Homo sapiens: one gene and its partners. The protein of the gene in region 1 purifies or fractionates together with the protein of each later gene. This does not show direct contact. Each region holds a gene or a part of one and is shown in the gene's direction. Other genes may lie near its edges. The genes, in order: TMEM120B, ACKR5, METTL9, SERINC1, GDPD5 and AGPAT2.

Region 1 (3,918 bases):
AGAGAGGTTTAAGGACTTTCTGAAAGTCACAAGACTACCTGGGAGGCAGCATCACTCCTCCAACCCCGAGAGTTGAGATGGGGAACTGCGGTTGCGAGAGGCACTGGGGTAGAAGGTGGGAGGCTGGGGTAGAAGGCGGGAGGCTGGGGTAGAAGGCGGGAGGCACTGGGGTAGAAGGCGGGAGGCTGGGGTAAAAGGCGGGAGGCTGGGGTAGAAGGCGGGAGGCTGGGGTAGAAGGCGGGAGGCTGGGGTAGAAGGCGGGAGGCTGGGGTAGAAGGCGGGAGGCTGGGGTAGAAGGCGGGAGGCTGGGGTAGAAGGCGGGAGGCTGGGGTAGAAGGCGGGAGGCTGGGGTAGAAGGCGGGAGGCTGGGGTAGAAGGCGGGAGGCTGGGGTAGAAGGCGGGAGGCTGGGGTAGAAGGCGGGAGGCACTGGGGTAGAAGGCGGGAGGCTGGGGTAGAAGGCGGGAGGCTGGGGTAGAAGGCGGGAGGCTGGGGTAGAAGGCGGGAGGCTGGGGTAGAAGGCGGGAGGCTGGGGTAGAAGGCGGGAGGCTGGGGTAGAAGGCGGGAGGCTGGGGTAGAAGGCGGGAGGCTGGGGTAGAAGGCGGGAGGCTGGGGTAGAAGGCGGGAGGCTGGGGTAGAAGGCGGGAGGCTGGGGTAGAAGGCGGGAGGCTGGGGTAGAAGGCGGGAGGCTGGGGTAGAAGGCGGGAGGCTGGGGTAGAAGGTGGGAGGCACTGGGGTAGAAGGTGGGAGGCTGGGGTAGAAGGTGGGAGGCACTGGGGTAGAAGGTGGGAGGCTGGGGTAGAAGGTGGGAGGCACTGGGGTAGAAGGTGGGAGGCTGGGGTAGAAGGTGGGAGGCACTGGGGTAGAAGGTGGGAGGCTGGGGTAGAAGGTGGGAGGCACTGGGGTAGAAGGTGGGAGGCTGGGGTAGAAGGTGGGAGGCACTGGGGTAGAAGGTGGGAGGCTGGGGTAGAAGGTGGGAGGCTGGGGTAGAAGGTGGGAGGCTGGGGTAGAAGGTGGGAGGCACTGGGGTAGAAGGTGGGAGGCTGGGGTAGAAGGTGGGAGGCTGGGGTAGAAGGTAGGAGGCACTGGGGTAGAAGGTGGGAGGCTGGGGCCCGGGGAGTCCATAGCCCTCCTCCCTCTGAGTGACGCCCCTTCCCCTGTGCCTGCATCTCTGTCCGCAGGTGCAAACGCCATGCCAGTCGGGAGGAGGCGGAGCTCGTTCAGCAGATGGCAGCGAACATCAAGGAGCGGCAGGACGTCTTCTTCGACATGGAGGCCTACCTGCCCAAGAAGAACGGGTAGGAGCTGGCAACCTCCCCACCCCTAGCACAGGCCCATGCCCAGGCCTAGCACAGCTGGTCCATATAACTCTCGCCTTCCTGCTGGTGCTCAGATTGAAGGGGAAAGAGGGAAACAAGGGCAGGAGAGATAAGGAGCCTTCCTTACACATTCCTCCATGAGCCCAGGAGGGGACCTTAGCCACACCGTGTGACAGCAGCATTCCTGGGAGGTCCGTTGCAAGGAACCAGCACTCACTGCATGCCTGCTGACACCTGGGGTTAAGAGGGAAACTGTCCTCTCCCAGGAGAACAAACATGCATTGCGTGCCTCCTGCACGCTCAGAGCTGTGCCGGGACCTCCTGTGATGTCACCTGGTTTATCCTCAACAATCTGTGCGTCAGACCAAGAGATGCCCATTTTTACAAGATTCAGAGACATCAGCGAATGTTTGGCCACACCAGGATGTGAACAGCAGACATTCTGACTCCAAAGCCCACGTTCTTTGTATTTTCCCCCTTCAGAGAAGTCCCCGTTCCCTCCCTTAAGTGATGTCATTGCCACCTTGTTCTGGAGAGAGAGAGCTGCTTACAGCCTCATATCATCATGACCTGACTTAACGCTGCTGAGCACAGTCAGTTCACCCTGACCCTGTTTTCCGGATCAGCCTCGCGCTGAGTCAGAGCCGTGCATTAGGAGGAGGGGCTCCTTTCAGGCCTGTAGCGGGTGGGAGGGAGCTGGCTAGCCCTGTTATATTTTAACCCATTCCTCCGAGCTTCTCCTTTTTGACTGTGTTCGAATAGACCCCATGAGTTAAGTGATGATCATTTTCTGCAGAATGAGCAGCAGCCTAGCATTCGTGACCCTCTTACAGTGTCATGCGTGTCTGCCTTCCTGCCCCTCTGTCCCTAGGCCTCTGTGCCTCTTAACCTCAGTTGGGAATCTTTGGATTGCAAACGATAGAAAACCCAACTCAAGGCCGGGCGCGGTGGCTTGTGCCTGTCATCCCAGCACTTCGGGAGGCCGAGGTGGGAGGATCACTTGAGCCCAGGAATTCAAGACCAGCCTGGACAACATTGTGAGACCACATCTCTACAAAACTTTAACAAAATTGGTGTGCTGGTGTGTACCCATAATCCCAGCTACTTTGGCGACTGAGGTGGGAGGACTACTTGAGCCTAGAGGTTCAAGACTGCAGTGACGCTGGGCACAGTGGCTCATGCCTGTAATCCCAGCACTTTGGGAGACGGAGGCAGGTGGATCACTTAAGGTTAGGAGTTCAAGACCAGCCTGGCCAACATGGTGAAACCCCTAAACCTACTAAAAATACAAAAATTAGCTGGCCTGGTGGCACGTGCCTGTAATCCCAGCTACTTGGGAGGCTGAGGCAGCAGAATTGCTTGAACCCAGGAGGTGGAGGTTATAGCGAGTCCTGATCGTGCCACTGCAGTCCAGTCTGGGTGACAGACCGAGACTCTGTCTCAAAAAAAAAAAAAAACAAAAAACACTGCAGTGAGCTATGATCATACCATTGCACTCTAGCCTGGGCAACAGAGTGAGACCCTGTCTCTAAAAATAATAACAATGATAATAATAATAATAATGAAAAATAAAGAAAATTCTTTAAAAATTGACCTAGAGGTTGTACCTTTGCCTCCACCTCATTGGCTATGCTTAGTCACCTGCTCACATCTGGCTGCAAGGCAGGCTTAGAAATACGGTCTCTAGGGTAGCATGGAGGAGAAATCGACTCCTCACACTGTCCTGTCACAGGTTAATGTCCTTTGGTTAGTTGTCATTCTCACTCGATGTGGGGGCCCATTTGCCCGCTGAGCTTAGGCCCCCTATCTTCTAACATCAGTGCTTGGGATGTGCTCATTAAGTGTGTTGAGTTTGAATGTTGTTGATTCGCACCCACCTGCTAAGGATCATGCCCCTCACAGGTGTTTCCTTCCAGGCTCTACTTGAACCTGGTCCTCGGCAATGTGAACGTGACCCTCCTCAGCAACCAGGCCAAGTAAGTGTCCCCCACCCACCACCCAGACCCACACCTCACACCGCCCCCACACCCACACCCACACCCCAAACCCCACACTGAGAACCCACACCCCACATCCACACCCACACCAACACCCCACACCTCAAACCCACACCCACACTCCACACCAACACCCCACCCACACCAACACCAACACCAACACCACACCCACACCCCACACTGCGAACCCACACCCACACCCACACCCACACCCCACACCACACACTCAAAACCCACACCCCATGCCAACACCCCACCCACACCCTACACCCACACCCCATACTCACACCCCACACTCCACACTCACACTCCACACCTTACAGCCACACCTACACCCCACACCCCATACACAACACCCCACACCAACACCACACACCACACTCCACACCCCATACCCACACCCCACACCCACACCACACACCACACCCCACATCCCACACCCACACCCCACACCCCACACCCACACCTCACCCCACACCCCACACTAACACCCCACACCCACACCACACACCCCACACCCACACCCCACACCCCACACCCCATATTCACACCCCACACCCAACACCCACACCCCAAACTGACACCCACTCTCTACACCCATATC
Region 2 (4,603 bases), about 65 Mb from region 1:
TACTGCACCGGCCATGATAGATTTTGTGATCTTGGAGTGATCTGATATGTAAGTGGAAGGTTTAAGAAAACTACAAAACTACAAAATGAAAAATATTCCCTTCCATGGAGATAAATGGTGCTGATGGTTGCACAGCAGTGTAAATGCACTTAGCGCCACTGAATTGTACACTTAAAAATGGTTAACGTGGTAAACCTTACATATATTTTACCATAATAAAAGAATCAGTGAGCAAACTTTTAAAAAATGTTCTCTTTGAGTGGATAAAGAAAATGTGGTGTGTGTGTGTGTATATATATATATATATATATGGGAATATTACTCAGCCATGAAAGGAAATGAAGTACGGATGCATGCTCCAAAGTGAATGAACCTTGAAAACATGCTAAGTGGAAAAAAAAAAACACAGACACTGAATGTCACATATGATATGGTTCCCTTTCTATTAAGTATCCAGAATAGGTAAATCCACAGGGACAGGAAGCAGAAGGTTGGTGGTGGGGGGAATAGGATTGACTGCTTAATGGTTATGGGGTTTTCTTTGCGGGTAATGAAGATGTTTAGCACGTAGACAGAGGTGGTGTTTGCACAATGTGCATGTCTAAATGCCATTAAATCACACATTTTAAAATGGTTAATTTTATGCTATGGGAATTTCACCTCGACTTAATATATACTCAATCCCGTCCAGCCGACACACCTTTGGCTCAGGCCTAGGCCACTCTGCCATCTGCCAAGTGTGGCTTGTGTAACAGACAACTTCTCTGGGCCTCAAAGAGGGTGAAGAAATCCATCCTCCCCACAGGGGTATCTCCAGAATCCAACGAGATGAAGTGAGGTGAAAGCGCTCTGAAGGGCAGGAAGCTCTGCTGACACAAAATGTTTACCCATAACACGTGGCTTAGAGTCCCTTACCCTCTAGCTTGGCGGGAGAGAGAAGTCTGCTCTCCCTACCCCACGCCCCATCCCCTGCTCATCCCCTGCCAGCCACCCACCACACCCTTCACGCAGAGAAGTATAGAGCCACAGGGGGAGGGCGCCATTCTCTCTCTCCCTCCCTACTCAGGAATCTCCCTGAAGCTTTGACAAAGCCCCCTTGACACCCCGCATTCAATCTTATTTTTATTTTTTTTTATTAACTCTGTCACCTAGGCTGGAGTGCAGTGACCTGATCTCAGCTCACTGCAACCTCCGCCTCCTGGGCTCAAGCGATTCTCCTGCCTCAGCCTCTCAAAATGCTGGAATTACAGGCGTGAGCCACCATGCCCAGCCATTCAATCTTTTCTTTCCCAGATTCTCACCTCCAATCACAAGATGAAGGCAGGGAGCTCACAGCCCTGTGAGGGGCTGGGGAGAATGGCAGGGGTGGGCCAGAGTTATTAAAAGCCCAACTGATGTTCAGATTTATTTTGACCCTCCCCTATACCCCCACATCCAATTTCACTCTAGTAGGAATCAAGACAGGGGAGAGAGGGATTCCAAGCTGACTTAGGGAGAGGAAAATACATACATACGTAAAGCATTTGCCACAGGCCCCACCTGAGCTAAGCACTTTCCCTCCCTCAACAGCTCCTTTAATTCTCAAAGCATCCCTTTTAGTAGATAATAGACCCCACTTTGCAGAGGAGAGCACTGAGGCTGAGGAAAGAGGTAAATTCATTCAGCGGGTGAGGGAGGAGCTGGGATTTTAATGCTGGCAGTATGACCTCCCCGCCACTGGCACACCGGGTCTTTTGCTGGGACATCCCCTGTAACCGGATTGGGGGAATGCAGGAAAAACCCCATCCCTCCCTACAGAGCCTCAGCAGTGACAGCTACTTCCCGGATGAGAAGGGCGGCCGTGAAGCCAGCAGGGAAGCCAGCCCCACAGCCAAGGGCCCCCCAGCCTCCTCACAGCTCCCCATAGCCTGGACCTGCCGGCCCTCCCTCCAGGACCGAGGGGCTCCCAAGGGAAACTCAGGTGAGTGTCGCCCTCTCCCAGGGAAGATGGGAATCAGGGCTTGGAGACAACTGGCTATCCTGCATGATCCACAGGTTTTCCTAGGGATGAATCAGATTGTGTGGTGTGCGTGTGTGTGTGTGTGTTCCACACTCACGGTCCAAATAACAAGACAGAAAAAGAGCAATAAAGATCTGTGCAAAAGGGCTGAGGAATGAAGTGCCAGGAGAGAGGTGGAGGTTGGAGACCACCTAGGAATGGTGGGTGTGGGGGGATTGAGGGGGTTGTTGAGGGGGAACTGGCTGGGGGTGGGGAGAAATGTTGGTGGACACCAACAGTCCTGGCCTCTTCCAGCTGAAACCCCTTAAGAAAGTATCTCTGCTCTTGGGTCAGAGCTAGCAAGTGAGTTGTGTATTATTTATTCACAGTTTGAAAGCTAAACTTCCCTTTCTTGCCTTAGCCCCAGAATCTTTCCCCAAAGCCCCCGACTCCCTCTGGCCTCTACCTTGAGGACACAAGGCTCTCGAGGTCTGCTTTCCCTTCCAACCCTCCCTTCATCCCAATAGGCGTGTGCTGGTCCCAATGTCAGTGAAACCCAGCTGGGGGCCTGGCCCCTCGGAGGGGGTCACCGCAGTGCCTACCAGTGACCTTGGAGAGATCCACAACTGGACCGAGCTGCTTGACCTCTTCAACCACACTTTGTCTGAGTGCCACGTGGAGCTCAGCCAGAGCACCAAGCGCGTGGTCCTCTTTGCCCTCTACCTGGCCATGTTTGTGGTTGGGCTGGTGGAGAACCTCCTGGTGATATGCGTCAACTGGCGCGGCTCAGGCCGGGCAGGGCTGATGAACCTCTACATCCTCAACATGGCCATCGCGGACCTGGGCATTGTCCTGTCTCTGCCCGTGTGGATGCTGGAGGTCACGCTGGACTACACCTGGCTCTGGGGCAGCTTCTCCTGCCGCTTCACTCACTACTTCTACTTTGTCAACATGTATAGCAGCATCTTCTTCCTGGTGTGCCTCAGTGTCGACCGCTATGTCACCCTCACCAGCGCCTCCCCCTCCTGGCAGCGTTACCAGCACCGAGTGCGGCGGGCCATGTGTGCAGGCATCTGGGTCCTCTCGGCCATCATCCCGCTGCCTGAGGTGGTCCACATCCAGCTGGTGGAGGGCCCTGAGCCCATGTGCCTCTTCATGGCACCTTTTGAAACGTACAGCACCTGGGCCCTGGCGGTGGCCCTGTCCACCACCATCCTGGGCTTCCTGCTGCCCTTCCCTCTCATCACAGTCTTCAATGTGCTGACAGCCTGCCGGCTGCGGCAGCCAGGACAACCCAAGAGCCGGCGCCACTGCCTGCTGCTGTGCGCCTACGTGGCCGTCTTTGTCATGTGCTGGCTGCCCTATCATGTGACCCTGCTGCTGCTCACACTGCATGGGACCCACATCTCCCTCCACTGCCACCTGGTCCACCTGCTCTACTTCTTCTATGATGTCATTGACTGCTTCTCCATGCTGCACTGTGTCATCAACCCCATCCTTTACAACTTTCTCAGCCCACACTTCCGGGGCCGGCTCCTGAATGCTGTAGTCCATTACCTTCCTAAGGACCAGACCAAGGCGGGCACATGCGCCTCCTCTTCCTCCTGTTCCACCCAGCATTCCATCATCATCACCAAGGGTGATAGCCAGCCTGCTGCAGCAGCCCCCCACCCTGAGCCAAGCCTGAGCTTTCAGGCACACCATTTGCTTCCAAATACTTCCCCCATCTCTCCCACTCAGCCTCTTACACCCAGCTGAGGTAGAGGCCAGACTCCTCCAACAGTGAAGGAAAAGGCACAGGTGAGAGTATAGGTGGGAGATTTGGGGGGATGTAGAGGGGAGGGTCAAAGCACTCGTGGTCAATTTTGAATCTATCTTAAAATACTGAGGTGTGGAGAGAGAGACAGGATCAGGAGCGATAGAGAGCAGGCCCTCAGTGTTGTACTATTTGTCTCGGTCCTTGTGTCTAAGGAGCAATGCAGAAAAAAAGGTGAAATAAATGGAAGAGATAGCCATGGACTCTGGATCTTTTAAAAATCTGCACTTCCAGCTGGGATTGGGAAGGGAGCTGAGGCTAAAGAGGTGCTCGGCAGAGGAAACTAGACACATTCATTTCATAAATCACTCTGGCTGGAAACAGTGAACTCTGCAGGAACCTCACAAAACTCCTTTTGCGTTTGTGAGCTTGTTGATCTTCCAGCTCACTATGCAGGTTATGGGGACAAGAGGCCAGAGGCCAAGGAACCAGGCGGCCCCAGCAGGACGTTCCCTAGCTGTGCATCCTATGCACAGCCATGATAAGTGAAGGCGGATGGGGATGGCAGGGGTGGGGGCGAAGCCAAGGTCTGAGACCTGCACCCTGCAGCTGGGTCAGCAGGATGGTATCTCCACCCGCGGCCATCCAGGAAACACAGCTCCATTTCCTTGCTGACACCCTCCCCTCCCCGTTGTCCATCCTGCTCCCTCCCCACAAGCAAGAGGAGTTGTCCCAGAGTCAGCTCCTCATAGCTGACCTCTTACCAGCTTCGGATCTAGGAAACTTCCAGACTTCTAGGGAGACACAGAGCTACCAGAAAGCCCAACCCACCCCCATCTCTTTCTCTCCAGATCATAGGAAAGTATCAA
Region 3 (3,918 bases), on another chromosome or scaffold:
TTTTGTTAGTATAGTTTGGAGAGGCAAGGCTCCTTTGGGCTAAAGCTGCTCTAAAACTGTAGTAGCAGTGCCATTTTAGTAACTTGGTTTGGTGTGCTAGCTTCAAAACTGGGATTATGTTTCACTTTGGGCAAGCAAGAAGCAGGGTTTCACTTAGAGCAGGGAAGTGGCTGGGAGGCCAGACTGGTCTCACAGACTTATTTTACAGCCTATGAAATAAGAATAGTTTTATATTTTTAAATGGTTACCAAGAAAATATCAAAATAACATTTTGTAATACATGAAGTTTCATTTATGGAATTCAAATTTATTTCAGTGTCTACAAATAAAGTGTTTTTTTTTTGAGATGGAGTCTCGCTTCGTCACCCAGGCTGGAGCGCAGTGGCCCAATTTTGGTTCACTGCAACCTCTGCCTCCCAGGTTCAAGCAATTCTGATGTCTCAGCCTCCCGAGTAGCTGGGATTACAGGTGAACACCACCACGCCCAGATAATTTTTGTAGTTTTCAGTAGAGATGGGGTTTCACTATGTTGGTTAGGCTGGTCTCAAACTCCTGACCTCAAGTGATCCTTCTTCCTGGGCCTCCCAAAGTGCTGGGATTACAGGCGTGAGGTACTACACCCAGCCCACAAATAAAGTTTTATTGAAAGAGAACTACCACATTCATTTACCTGTGGTCTATGAGCTCCCTGGCTACAATAGCAGCATATTTGCTACTGTATGGCCTGCAAGCCTAAAACATTTACTACGTGGCTTCTTACAGAATAAAGACTTTTTCCAAGAGAAATTCCCAGCTTCCTTAACAAACAGCTTTTTTTTTTTTTTGGAGACAGGGTCTCACTGTGTCACCCAGGCTGGAGTGTAGTGGCACAATCTCAGCTCACTGCATCCTCGACCTCCTGGGTTCAAGCGGTTCTCATGCCTCAGCCTCTCCATAGCTGGGATTACAGGCACGTGCCAGCACACCTGGTTAATTTTTGTAGTTTTAGTAGAGACAGGGCTTCACCATGTTGGCCAGGCTGGTCTTGAACTCCTGGCCTCAAGTGATCTTCCCACATCGGCTTCCCAAAGTGCTGGAATTACAGGAGTGAGCCACTGCAACCAGCCTCCAACAGCATATTCTTAATCACAGGTTGCAGGGTGGGTAGATTGACTCACTGGGAAGAAATAGAGGCAGGCAGTGAGAAACTAGTAGATATTGTCACTTTGCAATGTTGGCAGACTCAGAATTTAAAAAGACAACAACAAAAAACTTAGGATCTATTCTTTTTGATGCATTGCACCTAGTGCTTAAAGTTAATGCAACTATTATGGAGCTACTGAAACTTTGAAAGGACCCTTAGGCCCCAGGTTCTTGGTAATAATAGCGGTTCAGTAGCTTCTCAATTGATGGAGTGAAAAAATTGTTATAGAACTCGCTGAACCAAACCACAACGATTTCTCCGGGTGACATACTGCAAGGTTTTTTAAAAGCACAGATAACATTCAATATCTGGAATTATTAAGTTGTAACTTAAAATTGCAAGTATGTGTATATTTTTGTGACTTATTTTTTCACTTTCTTATATAAGCTCAGAACTGCGCTATGCCACAAGTGATGAAGAATTCAAGAAAGAATTAAAATCCTTTTTTTTCCCCCAAATGAAAAAATACTTGGACAGCATAGCCAGAGCCAAACACTGTGCTAAAGGACAGAGTGTTTCCTGTCCCTTTACCCCTCACTTACCCTGTGGAGGCAGACTGGAGTCAGGCATGAGTTAACAATGCTTCAAGGATAGTCAGCCAGCTAAGCCGGACAGACACTGATGGATTGGCGTCCTTCTCTGAACTGCCTTCGAGAGTCTGGAGGCCTTTGCAGCTGAATACCAAAGAGACTTCAGAAAGGATTTCTTTGCTTCCTCATAATCTGTGTTGAAACCCCAAGTGTTTGCTTCAGTTTCACAGAACACTAGAATCTCTTTCTTGTGCTGGATATACCAGGAGTCTTTATGTTTCTCTTTGAAGGTGCCCTAGAAGACCCTAATAGCTTCCAGTAAAAAGCTCTGTTGTGTAGACCCTCTGAAGCTTTGTTAAAATTTTAGGATTATCCTGTCCTATGGGGAGTGAGTATTTAGTATTTGCAATGAGGATTGCCAGTAATTGGTTATTAAATCAAAGCTGAAGCCATTTAATCTGTTTTAATTGATTCCCCTCATGGATATGAGGGTGCCTGTCACTGTACACATTGAAATCTCACATAAAGAGGTTATTGGGTTGAGTTTATATTGTTTGTGGGAAAATGGTGAATGGTCTGAATATTTACGCCTATGCTGTGCTTAAATGCAAGGTGTGCATGGTGAAATGTCTGGACTGAGTTGACTGCATTGTAAAATCTTAGAATGTGAATTTTGAATCCTTAGCTGTCAAGCTCTGTTGATGGAGTTGGTCTGGCCAACTTAGAAAAGATTCTGTGTTCATAGATCCTGAGCAGTGGAGCTTTTCTGATTGTTTTTGGTAGCCCTGAATGCCTTGGGTCTTTGATTACCCATTTCTTTTGAGAATGGCTGGATGCCTAGACCTACAGTTTGGTTTTTAGGCATTCCCTTGAACTGTACTTCTCCTCTGACCAGCCCTTGCCTTGGAGAGAAAGGGGAAGGAAATATGAAGAGCTACTGGCCTTCTATTGTGTGCCAGGCACTTCAAATATATTATCCCCAGTAGTCCACATAGAACTCTTGGAGGTTGGTGGTATCATCCGCACTTTACATACAGAAAAGTGAGGGTGAGAGAGAGAAGAGACTTGCTCACCAGCACAGAGTTAATGGATGATAGAGTTGGGCTTTGCACCCAGCTTTGGTTTCAAGGCAACACATTTTCTGCTGCTTTATGATGCCCCTCCTGGTAAACCTTGTGTTGTCTGAGGGGTGGTAAAAATAGGCTTGCCTTCTTTTTTTTTTTTTTTTTTTTTTTTTTTTTTTTTTTTTTTGAGAAACAAGTTCTTACTCTGTCACCCAAGTTGGAATGCAGTGGCCTGATCATATCTCACTGCAGCCTCAAACTCCTGGCCTCAGTACATCCTCCTGCCTCGGCCTCCTGAGTAGCTTCTAAATCTTTTGTAGAGGCAGGGTCTTGCCATGTTGTTCAGGCTGGTCTCAAACTCCTGGCCTCAAGCAGTCCTCCTGCCTCAGTCTCCCAAAGTGCTGGGATTACAGGCGTGAGCCACTGCTCCTGGCCTAGGCTTGCCTTCTGAATAGGAAACTGCCCTCATTCTAGTGAGGCCTCTGTGTAGACACTGAAGTTAGGTAGCTGTGTGCACAATACTTGTTGAAGATTTTGTAGTTTGTGAATTAGATGAGAATAAGACAGCTGCTTGAAGTTCTGGCCTTTATCTGGTTTGTGCATGCTTTTTTTAAGGCTTAAAGTTGAAAAAAGATTCTTACATGTATTGTCATTTTTTCCTGACATCAGCCATTCTCTAATTTTCCATCACCAAGTGGGTGTTTAATTGTTCAATCCTGTTCTGACATTAACTACCTGGAGTTAGGGTCACGCTTTACAGAGTTAAGAGCTCAGTCCCACAAGACTGCCCTCACTTCAGAGGCCAGCTGGAAGTCCTGGGTTCCCAGGCTGCCAGTGCTTTTGTCCACCTTGAACAAATTTGGGAGTTCCCACAACTCTACCTTCACCCTACCCCACCCCACCCCCTAATTTCCTATAATAGAATGACTCATAGAACTTAGGAAAACACAGGTGCGGTGGCTCACGCCTGTAATCCCGGCACTATGGGAGGCTGAGGTGGGTGGATCACGAGGTCAGGAGATCAAGACCATCCCGGCTAACAGGGTGAAACCTGGTCTCTACTAAAAATACAAAAAAATTAGCTGGGCGTGGTGGCACGTGCCTGTAATCCCAGCTACTGGGGAGGCTGAGGCAGGAGAAT
Region 4 (3,500 bases), on another chromosome or scaffold:
CTTCTGCTACCCATTGTGTATTCCCTTTGCCTTCAGCAAGCAACTCAGCAGGTCGTGGTTTTTTTCCTGGTGGAGTGACCCAATGATCTCCATAAGCGCCTACTTTAACTGGGGGACCACAATGTTGTTTTGGGTCCCCTGGAATCAATGTCAGCTCAGAGCCAGTGTCCAGTAGTCCCCAAAATGTCTTATCATTTCCCTTTCTTTTCCAGCCATTTGCTCTGATGCTTCCTCTAGCGTGGTCTGGGCTTTAATCCATTCCTTTCACATGTTGACTTGCCTTTCTTATCAGATTTTTTTTGCTTTGTTTTTTCCAATTGGAAAGATCTATAATATAAGCTTGGGTTCATGGTAATGGTTAATTTCACTCTCTCTCCAAACTATGTTATCTAAATATGATGATTACCTTGTTTTGTAGTTACAAATATGGCTACACTCCAGATCATAATATCCTCAGAAAGAAGTAGAACATTCACATAAAGTGTAGCTATTTGTTAAGATGCAGTTAAATGATTTCATATATGAAATTATTTGATGAATGTCTATTAATAAAAAATTATATTTCTTTTTGTTTTAGATTTTGGTTCTTTAAATTTGCTGCAGCAATTGCAATTATTATTGGGGCATTCTTCATTCCAGAAGGAACTTTTACAACTGGTAAGAAATCCTTTTTAAGTTGTTTGACATTGATATTTTATAAAGGAATCTGAAATAATTGTCACCTGGAACTATAATTGTTTGTCTTTTTGTTTGGGGGTGTGTGTGTGTGTGTTTCCCCAGTTGGCAAAATCAAGATGTTCATATAAAATTTTATTTTCCTTTTTGTGTACTGTGATTTTGAAAGGAAATGATAAAAATCAAACTAACCAATCACTTATGTATGCTTTCTTTCCCTTTCAGTGTGGTTTTATGTAGGCATGGCAGGTGCCTTTTGTTTCATCCTCATACAACTAGTCTTACTTATTGATTTTGCACATTCATGGAATGAATCGTGGGTTGAAAAAATGGAAGAAGGGAACTCGAGATGTTGGTATGCAGGTAAGCTTTCGTCGCAGAACAACTTCAGTATAGTTGAACTTTGAAGTCGAGAATAGATATGTAGACTAGGTAAATCACTTAGGATTTTTATGGTCTACTTTCCTATGATGAGGTTTTTAATTTAAACTTTGTGAGTGTCAAAATATCACATTGTATCAGCAACTTGGTGAGCAGATCTTTTAGCAGATTAACTGGGAACATAACCCAAGAACCAGGAAAGAATCCAAAAGAACCTGAATAGCTAAAATAAATGTTCCAAAGCATATTACTGAAAGCATGTGCACTTTATAGCCTAATTTTCTAGCCTACAATGGGTTAAAAGCAAAATATTAAAGGGAAGAGGATTGCTAGGAATAGATAAACACACAGTGATACAATTCATAAACAGCAGCAAATAAAAAATATAAAAAGCAACTCGGATGTTTTATTCAAGTGCAAAGGATGCTTTTATGTGCATCAATAACAACTAAAGGAATTCCTATAGTAATGTAATTAATGATTATTTATAATGATGATGTTGAGTCCTTTGGGGTTATACTTGAAAACAGATATCCCAATTCAAATGCTTACAGGGCCAAACCAGGTAACAAAAATGAGGGAACAGGAGGACAGAGTTTAAGTGCATAAGCTTTGTGCAAATAGACTACAATGAATTGGAGAGTATGAATGCCCCATCTAAAGTGCATTACTACTGCTCAGCTCCATTTATTAGTTGCCTTGTGGGAATGTGAACTTAGTATTGCTTGATTTTTCTAATGTTTTTCAAAAGAAGTCATAAATCTGGATTTTCATGCTAAATGACTGAGTTTCAGCTAAAAAAATTTTAAATTGGAGTGCAAGCCAAATCCAGTGTGTCTGCTGGCCTAATATTCCTCTCACACAACTAATTTGTGGTGTTTTATCTCAGTGGTTCAAGTTAAAATAATTTGGTGCTCAAAGAAATAAGCTTTAGTCATTTGGAAATTTCACTTACATTGAATACCTTGTTCTCTAAATGCAAAGTCTAATGCAAGGGTTTCTGTGTCTTTTGTTCCCTGCTGTATCCCCAGGGCCTGGAATGCAGGCATTCAATAAATATTTGTTGGATGGATCCCCTGTCAGCGAGGCAAATCTACATAAATACTTGTATATTAGGCACATATTAGCATAAAGGCTAAACAACTTGTGTATGTTGAAATTTACATAGAAAAAGCATAGGTTGACTTATTAAATAATGACTTACCCTTGCATAATATGTATCTTTTAAGATTTTAGTTCATGAGGAAAAGCATCATTGTTGTGAGGGCTTAACATTAATAATGAAAATAATTTTCTTAATGCCCTTGTTTACAACTGAGTGATAATGGTTCTTTAAAAACCTTAAGTAATATTCCTCTTATAGTTATTTTTCTTTATTTTGAAAATAATGGCTAACATGTAAACATAGTTTGTAAACTCTAATATAGATATTAGTATTAAATCCTATTAGTTTCTTACTAACTTGCCATCCTTGCAAATACATAATAGCTATGTGTAAAAACTAGAATTCTTCAGCAATAAAGGTCAGAATTAATTTTCTTTCCTGCTTTTATAGCCTTTATAATGCTGACAATGTTAGTTGCTTAAAATATATTTTTTGACAAAATGACAGATTGTTTATAAAACAGGTCCCATTTCTAATTGCTAATAATTTCTGATAAAAAGCTAATTATCCAATTATATTTCTTTCACAGCCTTGTTATCAGCTACAGCTCTGAATTATCTGCTGTCTTTAGTTGCTATCGTCCTGTTCTTTGTCTACTACACTCATCCAGCCAGTTGTTCAGAAAACAAGGCGTTCATCAGTGTCAACATGCTCCTCTGCGTTGGTGCTTCTGTAATGTCTATACTGCCAAAAATCCAAGTATGCCCTTTAAAGCATTAGTTTTTATGAAGCTTATACCTTTTTAAGTTTTCAAAAATCTAGAATGATGTCAGACTATTTACCTGTGTTGCTATATATATATATATATATTTTTTTTTTTTTTTTTTTGTAGGAATCACAACCAAGATCTGGTTTGTTACAGTCTTCAGTAATTACAGTCTACACAATGTATTTGACATGGTCAGCTATGACCAATGAACCAGGTGTGTTTTATTTATATTACATGTTCCTAAAGGTTCTGCAGTTGTTGTTTTTCCAGAAATTGTCTTTTTGTGAGATTAAATTACTTAAAAATTAGGCTTCTAGAGGAATAAAGTACAAAGTTTTGATCTTTGATGTATTATTTATTTCACTTAGTTTCTTCCATCACTAACAAAATTATAAGAAGGTTACATGTATACCTAAGAGAAACTGTGAGTTCAGTTTCAGAGCACCACAATGAAACAAGCATCACAGTAAAGCATGATTTTTTGGTTTCCCAGTGCATATAAAACTTTTGTTTATCTTACACTAGTCTGTTGTGTGCCATAGCATTATGTCTAGAAAAACAATGTACATT
Region 5 (2,819 bases), on another chromosome or scaffold:
CTAAAAACCCACCGTGCACCAAGCCCTGTGCCCGGGCCACCTCGCAGACAGCGCGCTCGCCTGAAGCCTCCCTTACCCCCGCAATCCTCTTTTCTGCTCCTCCCGTCCCACTGCCGTGTGTGTCCCTCTGCTCCCTGTTCCCACGGCCGTTTCTGCAGGTGGGGACCAGCGTTTCCTTGACAGCTTCCTGACCTGGCCCCTCTCTGCACCAAAGTGTCTCCCTGGGGGAGGGGACCCTGCCTGGGTACCCCCATCCCCCTGCCTCTGGCACTTACAGGGGCCTTCACCACTTGCCCAGGGCAGACCCTACCAAGTTTCTGCCTCTCTCTTCCCATCTTCTCCCTCCCTGGCTCTGCCTCTCCCACTGTTCACTCTTCCTGTTTACCTTTCTCTGCCTCTCCCATCTCTTTCTCTCTCTTCTTTACATTCTATCTCTAACACCCATCCCTGCTTTGCTCCCCGCAACACACAGCCTTTTCCTCATTCCCCTCAGAGGACCCCACAGTGGCTGAGCTTCCTGTTCTGGATATGCCTGGCCGAGAGACCCTGGCCTGACACTGTCCTTCTGGGTTTCAACATGAATTTCCAGGATGGGACCTAGAGCTTAGGGACCCACGTCTCCCTCCGTCTAGTGCCTTAGCCCCTCCTGGGTCAGGCAGCTTCACCAATCAGCTTCTAGGAGGAGATGCTGTCCCTGGCTATGGGACATTCCTTGAGTCATTCCTGTGTCCGCCCAGTTGACCAACATCCACATACACTGGTTGCTGATGCTGTCTGCAGCAGGAGTTGGGCCTTCTCACATGGAGCCCCAGGGTGCTGGGGAGGCCACCCCATGGTGATTCAGTGGCTGGCACAGACACGCTGGGTCTGCTCAGACACAGCCAGGGCAGTGTCATTGTCTCCTGGGGATCAGGAGAGGCCTGGTGGAGGAAGGTACCCTGGGGGACAAGGCCGGGGGAGGATACTCTTTCCCTGTGGGCCTTATTCTTCCATTCATTCACTCAACAAGTACAGGTCAGGCTCCCGGGACACGGCAGGCACTGATGGTACTGGGGCACAGCGATGAACAGAGAGAGATTTGCTCACTGCCCTCAATGATTCATAGGGCAGCCAGCCTCGCCAGGGTGTCCGTGCCACCCCCCGCCTCCTGCTTTCCCCTTGTCTGCCTGCTCTGTTCATCCATCCATCCGCCTGTCCATCTGTCTGTCCACTTCTGCTGCGCTGACCCCATCTAGTAACTCACAGTTGGTTTCTTGTGGAGTCTTGGCTCTCTCCATCCCCCAAGCAGGGTTCAGTCCCTGAGGCAGTTGGGTTCTTGTTCCCAAGTTGATCACCCCCTCCTCCTGGTGGGGACAGGGGTGAGAGTCCAGTGATCCTTCTGCCTAGATCCCAGGAAAGGTCTAAGTTCAGAGGCCAGGGACTGGGGCTAGTTCAGAGGAATGACAATAGTGAAGACAGTGGCCTGGGCTGGGCACAGAAACCTGAGTCCTTTCCACTTAGTGCCTGGTCCCTTCATGCCCTGTGCATGCTCCACCTCCCAGCCCACTCTTGAGTAATTTTACCCCCACCTTGCACCTGTCTCAGCCATCAGAGGGATTCATGCTCTGACCTCCCTCCGCATTAGGACTGCCAGGACAGAGCAGCAGTTGGCCCCACTCCAAGTCACTCTAACCCCCTTGCCTTGGGAACCTGTGCAGACCAGCTCTGGGCAAAGCCCCCTACCACCTGGCCCCACCCCCCTGCTTTCCTTCCCTCCCTCTCAAGGGGTCTCCCCAATGGCTTCACTTAGTCTGGTCATGATGGTGGAGCTATAAGAGACATCAGCTGGGACTCCCTGAGATTGGTGTGTGCCCCAGCTTAGGTCAACAGAGTCGTGCCTACTAAGCTCCTCCTGCTCCCAAATCTGTCCCATTCAAAGAGAGCCAGGTGCATTACTGGGGACACCTGAGACAGAACTAACCAACCCTAGTCCTGGGCCAGGGCTGCTGACTGGCGGCTCTGGAGGTAAGAGGGAGGCCAGGGAGCCCTGGCCGAGAGTCAGTAGGCTCTGATTCAAGCCCCAACTCTGCCCTCTCTGGGCCTATTTCCCCATTGTACAGTGGGACAAGAGTCCTGCTGGTCTCTTGGGCCACATCCAGAGAGGCTCTGGAAGTAGGCAGGGTCTCTGCTCCAAGGGAGGGCTGAGGAGAGACCTGATGCCCACGGGGCCATCTCTGCAGGTGGCGCCTGGGTGGCATACGGAGCTACAACCCTGAGCAGATCATGCTGAGTGCTGCGGTGCGCCGGACCAGCCGGGACGTCAGCATCATGAAGGAGAAGCTTATTTTCTCAGGTACACAGCCCTGCAGACAGGTGGAGGCAGGCCCTGGGCCCAGCTTTCTGCACCCCCACATGCAAACAGATGTGTATGCACACACATTCACATGTGGCACATATGGGTAGGGACAAGGGCACAGACGTACATAAACCCACCGGGATTATACCCACAGACATACAAAGGCATAAGTACACGTGTGAAAACACACACCCCCACACACACAGTCATCCACCCTGTCATCCACCATGGCTTGGTGTCAGTGCCATGGTTGGTGGGCAGGGGTGGGGTAGGGAGAGGAGTCTGTTTTGAAGGCCCATCCCCCTTTGCCTGGTTCGTACTTGGATCCTACAATGTTGGCCTCACCCTTGCTCTTTGCCAGTCCCTGTCAACATTCCCAGTCTGATGGAAGCAGCAGCTACGTATATAAACAGTGGCAGGGAAAGTCGAGTTCCTGCGATGGGAGTGCCGGGCGGGGGGCGGGAGGACGTGGTCAGAGCTGCCT
Region 6 (2,825 bases), on another chromosome or scaffold:
GGCCTCCCCTGCAGCATCATCGGCTGGTTCGTGCGAAGCTTCAAGTACTTTTACGGGCTCCGCTTCGAGGTGCGGGACCCGCGCAGGCTGCAGGAGGCCCGTCCCTGTGTCATCGTCTCCAACCACCAGAGCATCCTGGACATGATGGGTAGGCCGGGCCTCGGGGGTGGCTTCTGGGGTTTGAGTGGGGCCGGCTGAGCTGGGGCTGTGTGGGGCTGGGTCCCGGGGACGAGGACACAGGGCTGCCTGTGCCTGGGCGAGCTCGGCCTCAGTACCTCCCTCAGGGCCAGACACAGAGGCTCGGAGGCCACACGACCCGTCCAGGTAGCCAGGGAGAAGGCAGGGTGCCAGGCAGGCCTGTGGGTGCTCAGCAGCTGTCTTCCAGCGCACGCTGTCTCCCCCTCTCTCTCTGTCTCTGTCTCTCTGTCTCCCAGGCCTCATGGAGGTCCTTCCGGAGCGCTGCGTGCAGATCGCCAAGCGGGAGCTGCTCTTCCTGGGGCCCGTGGGCCTCATCATGTACCTCGGGGGCGTCTTCTTCATCAACCGGCAGCGCTCTAGCACTGCCATGACAGTGATGGCCGACCTGGGCGAGCGCATGGTCAGGGAGAACGTGAGTGTGCAGGGCCGGGCTCGGTGGGGTTGGGGTGGGGCCTGGGCGGGGCCAGGCAGGGGCCAGCTTGTGACTTGGTTTTGGCAGAAAAAACAAGACCCCCACATCATCCATGCTCCGCAGGTGGGGTCCCACGCCAGACCCCTACATCATCCATGCTCCGCAGATGGGGTCCCATGCCAGCTGCTTTGCGAAGTGGGGCTTCTTAGGAGGCGAGGCGGCGTGGCCTTTCTGGGGTGGCCTGGGCGTGAGGTCAGTCCAGGCTCTCCTCTCCCTGCAGCTCAAAGTGTGGATCTATCCCGAGGGTACTCGCAACGACAATGGGGACCTGCTGCCTTTTAAGAAGGGCGCCTTCTACCTGGCAGTCCAGGCACAGGTAGGCTGAGCCCAGCCCTCCCTGGGTGGGTGCAGGCTGGGGAGGCGGGGTCAGGCTGGCTTAAGGCAGCAGGTGACCACCAGCCGAGCTGAGGACCCTTGACACACAAGGGACTCCTCCCACTGAGTTGGGGACAGGGCCTCCTTGCCCCTTCCTGCACTTGCCCCCTGACCGACCAGGGAGGGCAGCCCCTTGGGCCTTTTGCCCACACAGAGCCCAGAGTGACCAGCTGCCCTTGGTGGGCACCCAGTGCTTGGCCTGCGAGGCTGGGCAGGTAGAGGGGTGGGGAGCCGGGCCGCTCGCCTCTGCTGCAGAGCTCTCAGGAGGCTCATTTCTGGGCCTGTGCCTGGCTGGGGTGGGCTTCAGGGCATGGGCAGTGGGTCTGGACAAGCCAGGCTTTTGGTGTAGTATCAGGCCAGACCAGAGCTCAGGGTGGGTGGAGCTCATTGTAAGCAGCGCCTCCAGACTCTGGACTTCCTGGTCCCCAGCCTCCAGGGGTGCAGTGCATCCTAGGGTGTCTGGGAGAGGCCAGGGTATAGCCATTCCCCCAGCACCTGTCCTGCCTCTGCCGCTGTGCTGGGAAGAGTTGCGTCAGGAGAAGGAGCTTTTACCCATCTGGGTGGGGTCTCGCTCAGGGCAGGGGTCTCAGCTCCTTCCCTCACACTGGCCACTAGTGGCCCCCAGTGCCTGGCCCTGTGCAAGGTGGTGGGGAGGGGGCCCTCCTTCCAGAGGCTCCCAGCTAAGGCCGTGAGGCCTGGGGAGCCCCGGAGGCGCTGGGCTGGGTGAGCATCCTTGGGCTCTGATCCCAGCCCTGCCCAGGTGCGGGGCACACCTGCCCAGCCTGGGGCTGATGTCACTTCCCTTTGGGGGCAGAGTGAGGGCTGGATCAGCTCTGGGAGAGCAGAGGGGAGACGGGCGGCTGTGATGGGGTGGCTGGGGGTGGCCGCAGTGCAGCTTCAGCCAGGAGACCCACAGCTTTTCCGTCCCTGCTCCCGGTCCCCAGCCTACCTGCTGGCCCCCTCCCTCCCTGCTGCCAGTCCCCAGCCTACCTGCTGGCCCCCTCCCTCCCTGCTCCCAGTCCCCAGCCTACCTGCTGGCCTCCTCCCTCCCTGCTGCCAGTCCCCAGCCTACCTGCTGGCCTCCTCCCTTCCTGCTGCCAGTCCCCAGCCTACCTGCTGGCCCCCTCCCTCCCTGCTCCCAGTCCCCAGCCTACCTGCTGGCCCCCTCCCTTCCTGCTGCCAGTCCCCAGCCTACCTGCTGGCCCCCTGGAGGTTCCCTGGCTGCCTCGGGTTAATGATCACCCCCAAGTGCCCTTGGATTTGACCCCGGTGACTTCCAGGAACACCAGCAGGCTCCACCCCTCCCCCGGGCTAGGGCTGCCTCCCTCACTGGCTTCCTGAGATGGAGAGGACTGGGAGAGAGGCGTGGGCAGGGAAGAGTGCCATAATCTCCTCCTAAACCGGACAGGGCCCTGCCCCCCTGGCTAGCTGCAGACCCAATATGGGGACAGGTGTGAACCAGGCAAACACGTGCTAGCTCAGGAGGGCTTCCTAGAGGAGATGAGTAAAAATTTGCAGGATGAGCTTATGGAACTCTGGGCCAACCAGAGCAGGACACATATCCCAGGTCCCAGGGGCAGGACAGCCACAAGGACCCATGGCAGCAGCGAAGGCAGGGGTGGGTGGGCCGCAGGACAGGGCTCCCCAACCACATGCAGCCTGGGGTGTGCCTGGCCTGTCCCCAGGGCTGCCTCAGCTGTGCGTCTCCCTGCCTGCAGGTGCCCATCGTCCCCGTGGTGTACTCTTCCTTCTCCTCCTTCTACAACACCAAGAAGAAGTT

What was found.
Region 2: the proteins of TMEM120B (region 1) and ACKR5 purify together in Homo sapiens (co-immunoprecipitation; one large-scale study listed by IntAct). This does not show direct contact.
Region 3: the proteins of TMEM120B (region 1) and METTL9 purify together in Homo sapiens (affinity purification with mass spectrometry, with the first as the bait; one large-scale study listed by BioGRID). This does not show direct contact.
Region 4: the proteins of TMEM120B (region 1) and SERINC1 purify together in Homo sapiens (affinity purification with mass spectrometry, with the first as the bait; one large-scale study listed by BioGRID). This does not show direct contact.
Region 5: the proteins of TMEM120B (region 1) and GDPD5 purify together in Homo sapiens (co-immunoprecipitation; one large-scale study listed by IntAct). This does not show direct contact.
Region 6: the proteins of TMEM120B (region 1) and AGPAT2 purify together in Homo sapiens (co-immunoprecipitation; one large-scale study listed by IntAct). This does not show direct contact.

What each region holds. Positions count from the first base shown.
Region 1 is NC_000012.12:121,747,147-121,751,064, forward strand, and holds part of TMEM120B (transmembrane protein 120B), read left to right. Parts: intron 1-1,179; coding exon 1,180-1,296; intron 1,297-3,233; coding exon 3,234-3,293; intron 3,294-3,918. UniProt on the Homo sapiens protein: Necessary for efficient adipogenesis. Does not show ion channel activity.
Region 2 is NC_000012.12:56,992,689-56,997,291, forward strand, and holds the start of ACKR5 (G-protein coupled receptor 182), read left to right. Parts: upstream 1-1,803; 5' UTR 1,804-1,960; intron 1,961-2,505; 5' UTR 2,506-2,521; coding exon 2,522-3,736; 3' UTR 3,737-4,603. UniProt on the Homo sapiens protein: Orphan receptor.
Region 3 is NC_000016.10:21,602,333-21,606,250, forward strand, and holds part of METTL9 (protein-L-histidine N-pros-methyltransferase isoform 1 precursor), read left to right. Parts: intron 1-3,918. UniProt on the Homo sapiens protein: Protein-histidine N-methyltransferase that specifically catalyzes 1-methylhistidine (pros-methylhistidine) methylation of target proteins.
Region 4 is NC_000006.12:122,451,308-122,454,807, reverse strand, and holds part of SERINC1 (serine incorporator 1), read left to right. Parts: intron 1-577; coding exon 578-657; intron 658-900; coding exon 901-1,038; intron 1,039-2,750; coding exon 2,751-2,920; intron 2,921-3,053; coding exon 3,054-3,144; intron 3,145-3,500.
Region 5 is NC_000011.10:75,436,449-75,439,267, reverse strand, and holds part of GDPD5 (glycerophosphodiester phosphodiesterase domain-containing protein 5), read left to right. Parts: intron 1-2,219; coding exon 2,220-2,332; intron 2,333-2,819. UniProt on the Homo sapiens protein: Glycerophosphodiester phosphodiesterase that promotes neurite formation and drives spinal motor neuron differentiation.
Region 6 is NC_000009.12:136,674,746-136,677,570, reverse strand, and holds part of AGPAT2 (1-acyl-sn-glycerol-3-phosphate acyltransferase beta), read left to right. Parts: intron 1-14; coding exon 15-148; intron 149-434; coding exon 435-610; intron 611-890; coding exon 891-986; intron 987-2,763; coding exon 2,764-2,825. UniProt on the Homo sapiens protein: Converts 1-acyl-sn-glycerol-3-phosphate (lysophosphatidic acid or LPA) into 1,2-diacyl-sn-glycerol-3-phosphate (phosphatidic acid or PA) by incorporating an acyl moiety at the sn-2 position of the glycerol backbone.